2 separate regions of the Homo sapiens genome follow, and region 2 is linked to region 1. The links come from fine-mapping of genetic effects on gene expression. Tissue or cell type: whole blood. Region 1 holds a variant in brackets; the other region holds the start of a gene. All regions are shown on one strand. Distances are between the middles of the regions. Region 1 has its middle 33 kb from the start of MB21D2. Region 2 holds the start of MB21D2 (Mab-21 domain containing 2).

Region 1 (4,400 bases):
GCCTCGGCCTCCCAAAGTGCTGGGATTACAGGCGTGAGCCACCGCGCCCGGCCTGCTGCTGGTTTTGAGTGTAAAACATACAGCCTTTGTAGAAAGAAATCTGGCAATATTTAGCAACATTAAGAACAGTTGGCTGGGCCAGGCATGGTGGCTCACGCCTGTAATCCCAGCACTTTGGGAGGCTGAGGCAGGCAGATCATGAGGTCAGGAGTTCAAGACCATCCTGGCTAATACAGCGAAACCCAGTCTCTACTAAAAACACACAAAATTAGCCAGGAGTGGTGGCAGGTGCCTGTAATCCCAGCTATTCAGGAGGCTGAGGCAGGAGAATCACTTGAACCAGGTACGCAGAGGTTGCAGTGAGATGAGATCACACCAATGCACTCCAGCCTGGGCGACAGAGCAAGACTCTATCTCAAAAAAAAAAAAAAAAGAAAAGAAAAGAAAGGAATGGTTGTACCTTATGACCCAACAATCCCAACAATGGATATACCCAGAACATTTCTCCCATGAGTTCACTAAGAGACAAATACAAGATAAAGCTAGGCACAGTGGCACACACCTGCAGTCCCAGCTACTCAGGAGGCTGAGGAAGGAGGATCACTTGTGCCCAGGAGTTTGAGTCCAACCTAGGCCACATAAGGAGACTCCATATTTAAACAAAAGAACTTAATTGTGGCAGCATTGTTTGTGGTATTAAATATAGAAGTTACCTAGTATTCACCAGAGAGGAATAGATGAGTAAAATGTGATAAGTTAATAGTCTGGAATTCTAAGCCATGGTCAGAGCAAATTAACATGTAGTCACATGGACAGACCTAAAAGCACAGTATTGAATGAAAATGTCTAGCACAGTACATTTAAGTAAATAAAAATCCATAGATAAAGCAGCATTTTCATACTTAAGGACATAGCAAATACAGTAGAATAAGTGTCTAAGGGGGAGAAAGGGCTGGGAATGACAATTATGAGTGGAGAAAAAATGTACAATAATAAAACATGAAAGAGTCTCAGTATGCATTAATGATGATAGTATTCTATGAACCAAAGTAATTAAATAAACTTTGCGAACGTGGGGTTAAAAAGTAGAACAGAAAAAACAGAGAGATGTTGTTGAAGAGATGATGTGATATAGAGAAAATTAACCTGTCCTGCAGGCAGGAGACCTGGGTTTTCATCTTGACTCTGCCTCTTGCCTGTTGGATAACACGTGCCTGGTACTTTCTTCTCTAGATTTCCATTTTCGTCTTTGATATGATAACAATATTAGGCTAAATTTCTAAGATCCTTTCCAGCTTTGTGCTTCAAGTATTCTGTTCTTCCATTCCCATCAATAACCTCTAGAATGCCATTCATAAGCAGCAGTAAAACCGTATCAGCCATTTCAGAACATTTTTAATTCACAGTGAAAGATAATCTAACTTATGAGAAATGTCTTTTGCTGAAGGTGTGTTTTTACACATCTGGCTGACAGAGTGGTATCCTTTGTTAAAATGTGCATCCTTTATTATCTTAAAGCAACAGTTTCCCTTTTCATGGATCTATGAATGAAAAGAAACAGCAAAAAACAGCTTAAATAATGTTCAATATGATCGGAGGTGCTATAGAACCAAAAAGCCTTTCTTGGATAATCAGAGCCTGGTTGATGATAATGATGATGATGATGATGATGATGATGACAATGATGATAAGCAAACTGAAAAAAAACATAAACCCAGGAGAAATTCAGCTTGTCTCTACACATCTAGCCCATAGAGGCCACCAGGCCTTTCTAGCCGGCCCTGGGCTGCTTTGGCTCTAACTTTAATTTACTTTAAAACACATCCTTGAGATGAGAGATGGAAAGCATTATGAAATGAGGAAGGTCATTTATACACCTGTGGACTCCATTTGCAAATTAAAATAACAAAATAGAAAAATACACACTGTCATGGAAAATCCATTCTGTATTATACTAGAAGAATTTTTTTGCCCTTTTAAGGGCTCATTAAAATGCAACAGTGCTCATTTCAACCAATTACTATTTTGGCTATGAATAGGAAAATATGTGTGAATGGCCAGCCCAGTACAAATGAAAACATTTGCATAACGTCAGCTCTTTCTTTTGTTGCATAATTAATCATTTAGAATTACATATTTGTAAATGTAATTTTTAAATGTCAGAAGAAATCATATTTTACTTATTGAACCACTCGAAATCATAATTACAGCTATCGTTTATTGAACACTCACTGAGTACCAGACATTATATGTATATTAATGGTTATGCTCATCACAATATAATAAAGTGAATATTACTATCACTGTTCTTGGATTAGGAAACTAAAGTTCAGAGAGAGTGATTAACGTGTCCAAGATGATAAGCAATTCAAAGCTAAGTATGACTGTTTATTAAAGCTTTTGTTCCTTATCACCATAACATTCAGCCTCCTCTAAAGATTTTTCTTCTGAAAATAATGACCCCATATTAACAGGTAAATTTATTGTGTATTCACTAATATGCCACTGTGCATACAACTATATACACATGGCCTCCTATAATTCACCAAACATCCCTATGAGATGTGGATACTCTTATTTATTTATTTATTTATTTATTTATTTATTT[ATTTATTTATTTG/G]AAACAGAGTCTTGCTCTGTCTCCAGGCTGGAGTGCAGTGGCACGATCTCGGCTCACTGCAATCTCCACCTCCTGGGTTGAAGTGATTCCCCTGCCTCAGCCTCCTGAGTAGCAGGGACTACAGGCACGCGCCACCACACCCTGCTAATTTTTTGTATTTTAGTAGAGACAGGGTTTCACCATGTTGGCCAGGATGTTCTCGATCTCCTGACCTCATGATCCGCCCTCCTCGGCCTCCCAAAGTGCTGGGATTACAAGCGTGAGCCACTGCGCCCGGCCACGATGTAGATACTCTTATACACATTTTAGGTGATGAGAAAACTGAGGCTTAAGGAAAATAGTACCTGGTTCAATATAGCGCAGCTATAAAGTAATGGAATCTGGATTCAAGGTCTTGATAATTATTAGTTCTTTCATTAAATTTTTTTTTAAATTTTATATAATAAAATTGGCTTTCCTGATGTACAGTTCTAAGAATTTTAATACGTGTGTAGATTCATGCAAGCATCACTACAATCAGTATACAAATCAGTACCATCGCTTTACCCATTTGTAATCACACCTTCCTCCCATGCTAACCCCTGGAACTCAGTGATCTGGTCTCTGTCACATAGTCTTTTTCTTTGTGAGAATGTGACATAAATGGAATTTTGTAGTATATAACCTTTTCGAACTGACTTCTTCCACTCAGTATAATGTCTTTGAACTCCATTCTTGCTGCTGCATGGAACGATAGTCTCTTCCTTTACATTGCTGAGTAATTTTCTGTAATACAGATGTATCACATTTATTTATCCATTCATCTGTTGAAAGAAATTTGAGCTGTCTCAGGTTTTGGAGATCATGAATAGAGTCGCTATACGCATTACATGTAAGATTTTGTGTAAAGGTAAGTGTTTGTTTTGTGGGGATAAATACCTAGGAGTCAGGTTGTTGGGTCACATGGTAAGCATTTGTTTAACCTTACAACTGCCAACCTTTTCTAGAATGGTTGTATCTTGACTTCTCACCAGCAAAATATTACAGCTCCAGTGCCTCCACATCCTTATCAGCACTTGGTATTGTCAGTTACTGTTTTCTTTTTTTCTTTTCAGCCTTTCTTTTCCTTTTTTCTTTCTTCCTTTTTTTTTTTTTTTTTTTTTTTTTGAGATGGAGTTTCACTCTTGTTGCCCAAGCTGGAGTGCAATGGTATGATCTCGGCTCATCGCAACCTCCACCTCCCGGGTTCAAGTGATTATCCTGCCTCAGCCTCTCAAGTAGCTGGGATTACAGGCATGTGCCACCATGCCAGGCTAATTTTGTATTTTTAGTAGAGAGAGGGCTTCACCATATTAGTCAGGCCGGTCTTGAACTCCTGACCTCAGGTGATCCGCCCACCTCCGCCTCCTAAAGTGCTGGGATTACAGGCATGAGCCACCGTGCCTGGCCTAATTTCAGCCTTTCTAAAAAGTGTTTAATAGTATCTCATGGTGGTTTAATTTGCATTTTTTCTATTTGAACTTCTTCATGTGCTCATTAAAGAGATGCTAAACATCCCTTTCTGTGCTTATTTGCCATCTATATCCTCTTTAGCAAAGTGTCTATTCAAGATATTTGCCCATTTAAAAAAGTGTGTTTTTCTTACCATTGAGTTTTAAGAATTCTTTATATATTCGGAGTCCTTCATCAGAAATATGATTCACAACTATTTTCATCATCCAGTTCATAGCTTGTATTTTCATTATCTTAATAATGTATTTTACAAAGCAAACTTCTTAAATTGTTATGAAGTCCAGTTTAT
Region 2 (4,400 bases), 33 kb after region 1:
AATAAGATGTAGCCCTCATCCCCAAGAATCTTTTAGTCTAAAACTTGCATTAACAATGATGAAGTGGTCAGGTGTGGTGGCTCACGCCTGTAATCCCTTTGAGAGATCTAGATGCAAGGACTGTTTAATCCCAGGAGGTTGAGGTTGCTGTGAGCCACGATTGTGCCACTGCACTCTGGCCTGGGCTACAGAGGAAGACCCTGTTTCAGAAACAAACAAACACACACACACACAACCCAAAACAAAAAGCAATGATGAAGCAAGGTCAAAATTCATTAGCATCATATGAAAGCTTCTGAGAGTAGGTTCTGAGGAAGGAAAAGTTGCCACCAGCTTGAGGGGAGGGTCTCCGGAAAGCTGTAAGAAAAAGGCAGACGCGGATTGGTTTTGGTGTAAACGGAGTAAAGAAGAGAGGAATTCCAGGGGGAGGTCAGTGGTCAGGTCTGTGTTTTCTAAAGATCACTCTGGCAACAAGTTGTTACTAGATTGAGGAACAGTGAAAGAATTAATAACAATAATAGTAGAAGCTGATAATAGCTAAGTACTTATTATGTCAGTCCTTGAACTAAGTGCTTGACCTGTTTTATCTCACGTAATCCTTAAAACAACCTGTGAGACAGGAATTATTATTCCCATTTTATAGGGGAAGGCATGGAAGAGTCCGTACTTCCTTCCATGTCTAACAAAACAATTTGTATTCTTGGCCATGAGAACTCGGGTAAGAAAGTGAAACAGACCTGATCTAAATCAGGGACTGTGGGATAGAGAAGAGAGATTTTGGAGAATTAGGGAGGAAGATAACCTATGTTTCTCACAGCCAATGGGCCTCCTAAGTGTTTGAATGATACACCCCATAAACACTAAAACCACCTCTGAGACTCTATTCTGCCTAAAGGACTATGACTTAGATTGAACCTGCCTTGTCATGTAAGCCTAACTCCATGGTAGGAGCCATGTCTTTTGGTTATCACTGTCACATTCTGTCACTCCATCTGGCAAATGGTGCGTACTCAAATTTTATCTGTTGAATGAGAAAATTTTCATCTTGTCATCCAACATTTCTTGGAACCTGGGGCAATACATTGTTTCCCCTCTCCCACACCCACACTTCAGTTTCCCTATCTTTATATTAGAGTAGGTTGAATCTCATTAACTCATTATATGTTAAGATAAATAAGCTGTTATTCAGGTCATTAATTACCTTGGGCAAAGGTAGGGATATCTAGGGGTTAGTGGGAGTGCCAATACTGGGTTAGATGTGGACCCTCTTTTTTTATACGCTCAATCCTATCATCTTGGCAATCCAAGAGGAAAAGGGTAGAAGACAGGTTTCATATTCCTTAAGGCAGTTTCCTTTACTATTTAAAGGTATTGGAGTTCTTGGGATAGAGAGGTAAACGCGCACAGAGATGTCCTCCCCCAGGACACCGCCCTTAAAATCAAACGGAGGAAGACTTTCTTCTCCTTGAATGCGCTTGGCAAACCCTGCCCAGAAAGGGGATGGGGGGACGGCCGTGGAGGTGGAGAAAGAATGCATCCACACCTCGCGCGTCTTCCCAAGTACGGATTGGCAAGTGGTATATGCGTGCAGACCTCTGTCATTTATTTATTTTCCTTTCCACTGGGTGCGCTGTCCCTTTAAATGGAGACGCTGGTGCTGGCTCCGTAACACCGGAGCCGGCAGCTTGTTGATTTCAGAGCTGGTGAATTTCACATTGTTTCCACTTCACTTTCCTCGCCCGGGGGAGGCTCCAGTTGGCTCTACGACCGCCGTTGCCGCTGCCAGAGAGGGCCAGGGCAGGGCAGGGACGCGCAGCATCGGGGCGGGCGTGGGGCCGGAGAAAAGGGTGTCGGGGCCACACACGCACCCTCGCTGCAGTCCAGCTCCTCCCGAAGCTCGCACGCCCAGAGCGCACGGAGCGGGGGACTGCCCGCCCAGACGCCCGCCCGCCAACCCGCCCACGAGCCGGGGCCAAAGCCTGGGAGCCTGCGAGGGGAGGAGGCCCAGGGGGGCGGGGTGGGGGGCGGGGGTGGGTGCCGCGCTGCCGCGGAGCTGCTACTCGGCGCGTTTTGCATGAAGATGGCGGCTCCCACCGCCAACAAGGCAGCCTCCCTGGGCTGTAACAACAAGCCTGCGTTCCCGGAGCTGGATTTCAGGTCGGGAGCTCGGGTGGAGGAATTGAACAAACTCATCCAAGAATTTACGAAGCACGACCAGCGGGAATACGACGACCAGAGAGCGCTGGAGATTCACACAGCCAAGGATTTCATCTTTTCCATGCTGGGTAAGGAGGAAAAAGGGGGAGGTGTGTGTGCGTGTGTGTGTGTGATGGGAAGCGGAGTAGAAAACCCATTGCCGCTTCTCGACCTCTTCCCTTCTGGGTTGCCTTCCCGAGCCGGTGCCTTGGGTATAAGCCATCTCTGTTCCGCCTCTCTCTTCTTTCTCCGCCGAAAGCCGAGCTGCCTGCCCTCCCCTCCTTACTATACTTTACGCCGGGTCTCCCTTTCCCCCTGTTCGCTTGCTCTTTTGTTAATTTCTCCGCCACCTGGGGCTGGCAGGCAGGTGAGGCGTTCGCGGTGAAGCGTTGCACTGTTGGGGGAAGCCCCTGGAAGCGAGTGCAGTCCAGGTGAGCCCCTGAGGTGCCTTCAGTTGAGGGATTTGGCTGCCGGAGGCAGGGACCTCCGCTTTCCCGACGCCGGCTCTTGGGTGCTCTCCCGAGCTTGGGAGCGGAGACGGCTCAGGGCTCTGGCTTGGCGCCCGAGCGACAAGTTGCTTCTGTCGTCTCGCGGCGCGGCGCTGTCATGCCGAGCCCCCGGTGGCCAAACTTGTTGGGTGTTCCCGAGTAACCCGCTGAAGTAGTCTAGGCGTCCGGAGTTCCTGCAACTTTGATTTGCAAATTGACTTCTCTTATGAAGCGATCGGAAGCATTTCCGGTGCTTCTTCAGGGCTCTCGCTGAGCTCGGAATTCTTAATTCCCAGCTCTTCCGTGACTAGGCGCGGAGCTCTGGCCGCAGAGGAGCGCCGGTTCCCTGCTCTTTGTGTATTGTCTTAGCGCTGGCCGAAAGAGGTGCCCAGAGTTTCCAACCGCGGAGACGTCGGGGGCTAGAAAATGTGTCCCCCACTCCCACCTCCAGCCCCTCACCTACGGCTCCTGAAACATGATTGAATGCTGTGTAAAGGAACATAATTGAGCCAGGCCCGGGAGACCGAGCCCACCCTCCCCAGGTGTCCTGCCGTTGGGATTATTGCTACTGAGGTGTAGTGTGAGTTTGCCAGGCGCCTGGGTTGTAACTTGCGGCTCCGCCAGCGGATCCGTGGCTGTCAAGCGGTGCGTGGCCGGCGGTCAACATTCCGAAGAACTGGTACTCCAGGGTAGCGCTGCTCTAACGCTCGTCTCTGGGTGCTCTCTACAAATAGATAAGCCAATTTTCCAGGTGTTGAAAAATTTGATTGGGAAAGGTCTTTTGGCCACAGACTAAGACAGGGCTTTTCTCTTTCTCCTGCAATCTAATTGGGTTTCAGCCGGCTGTTGCTGCTTCTATCCTGGGATACCTTCTTCCTTCTAGGTTTTCTTCTTCCTCACTGCCCAAGGACGGGGTAATACAGACTGAACGTGTCTGTGTCCGCTGGTAGTTGTTCACGCGTTGGGAAGTTAGATGAAACATGTTAAAACTCTAGGCTGGTTTTTACCTTTTGCGCCGCACTCTTCAAGTGTGTCTTACGTTGCGTATGAGGTTGAAAAACTATTGAGAGATTCAGCCGTTCAACTATGTAGATGAATAGATGAATTAAATATATATATATATATATATATAAAACCTGGTAGGAGTGAGCTTCCACAGGGAAGCCTAAAATGCTTACAAAGCCAAAAGCCAACACAGTGATTGTCAGGAAGGTGGGGCCACACACAGAAGGCTGAGCGCAGTTACTTAAGTTGTTTAGTTAATCATAGCCTTTCTCTGTGGCATAAATAATGGAAGTCTGCCATTGTGTTAATACAGCCCCCAGATCAGTTCTGATGTCACTTGCGTAGGTCATTTACTAGAAGAAGGTACTGGGTCACCACCAGTTAGGGTAGTCATGGGTCAGGAAATGGGATAATGTAGGGAGGGTAAATTTAAGTGCCTGGCTCATGAGGAACTTCTGTGCTTAACTCCAAAGCTGATACACTGAATCAGCAAAGCTTTTATCCAAATATAAAAAAGTAAATTATTCTAGGGTGCTTAATTTTTGCATGTGTTTAATGCCATGGGTGGCATTGTGTTGACAGGTAAACTAGATTTGCTTCTATTCCTTTTTACCCAGTTGACCTTGCAAGCAGTCTTTCTTGCCCCCTGGGAATTTAGCATTTCCACCTGCAGGAGAGAAGATTCAAGAGAGTGTCATTTAAGCCTTTTGC

Evidence for each region. PIP is the estimated chance that this variant, and not a neighbour inherited with it, causes the effect.
Region 2: MB21D2 starts here. The variant in region 1 is fine-mapped to the expression of MB21D2 in whole blood (INTERVAL, PIP 0.98).

What each region holds. Positions count from the first base shown.
Region 1 is chr3:192,948,498-192,952,897 of GRCh38, reverse strand. No RefSeq gene overlaps it. Among named protein-coding and RNA genes, the nearest start is that of MB21D2, 33 kb to the right of the region's middle. The variant ATTTATTTATTTG/G (reference allele first, on the strand shown) is at 2,609.
Region 2 is chr3:192,915,515-192,919,914 of GRCh38, reverse strand. MB21D2 (Mab-21 domain containing 2) reads left to right here and starts at 2,059. Exons shown (of 2, transcript NM_178496.4): 1 at 2,059-2,285. The coding sequence starts at 2,075. RefSeq lists a silencer at 1,754-2,113 and an enhancer at 2,764-3,093.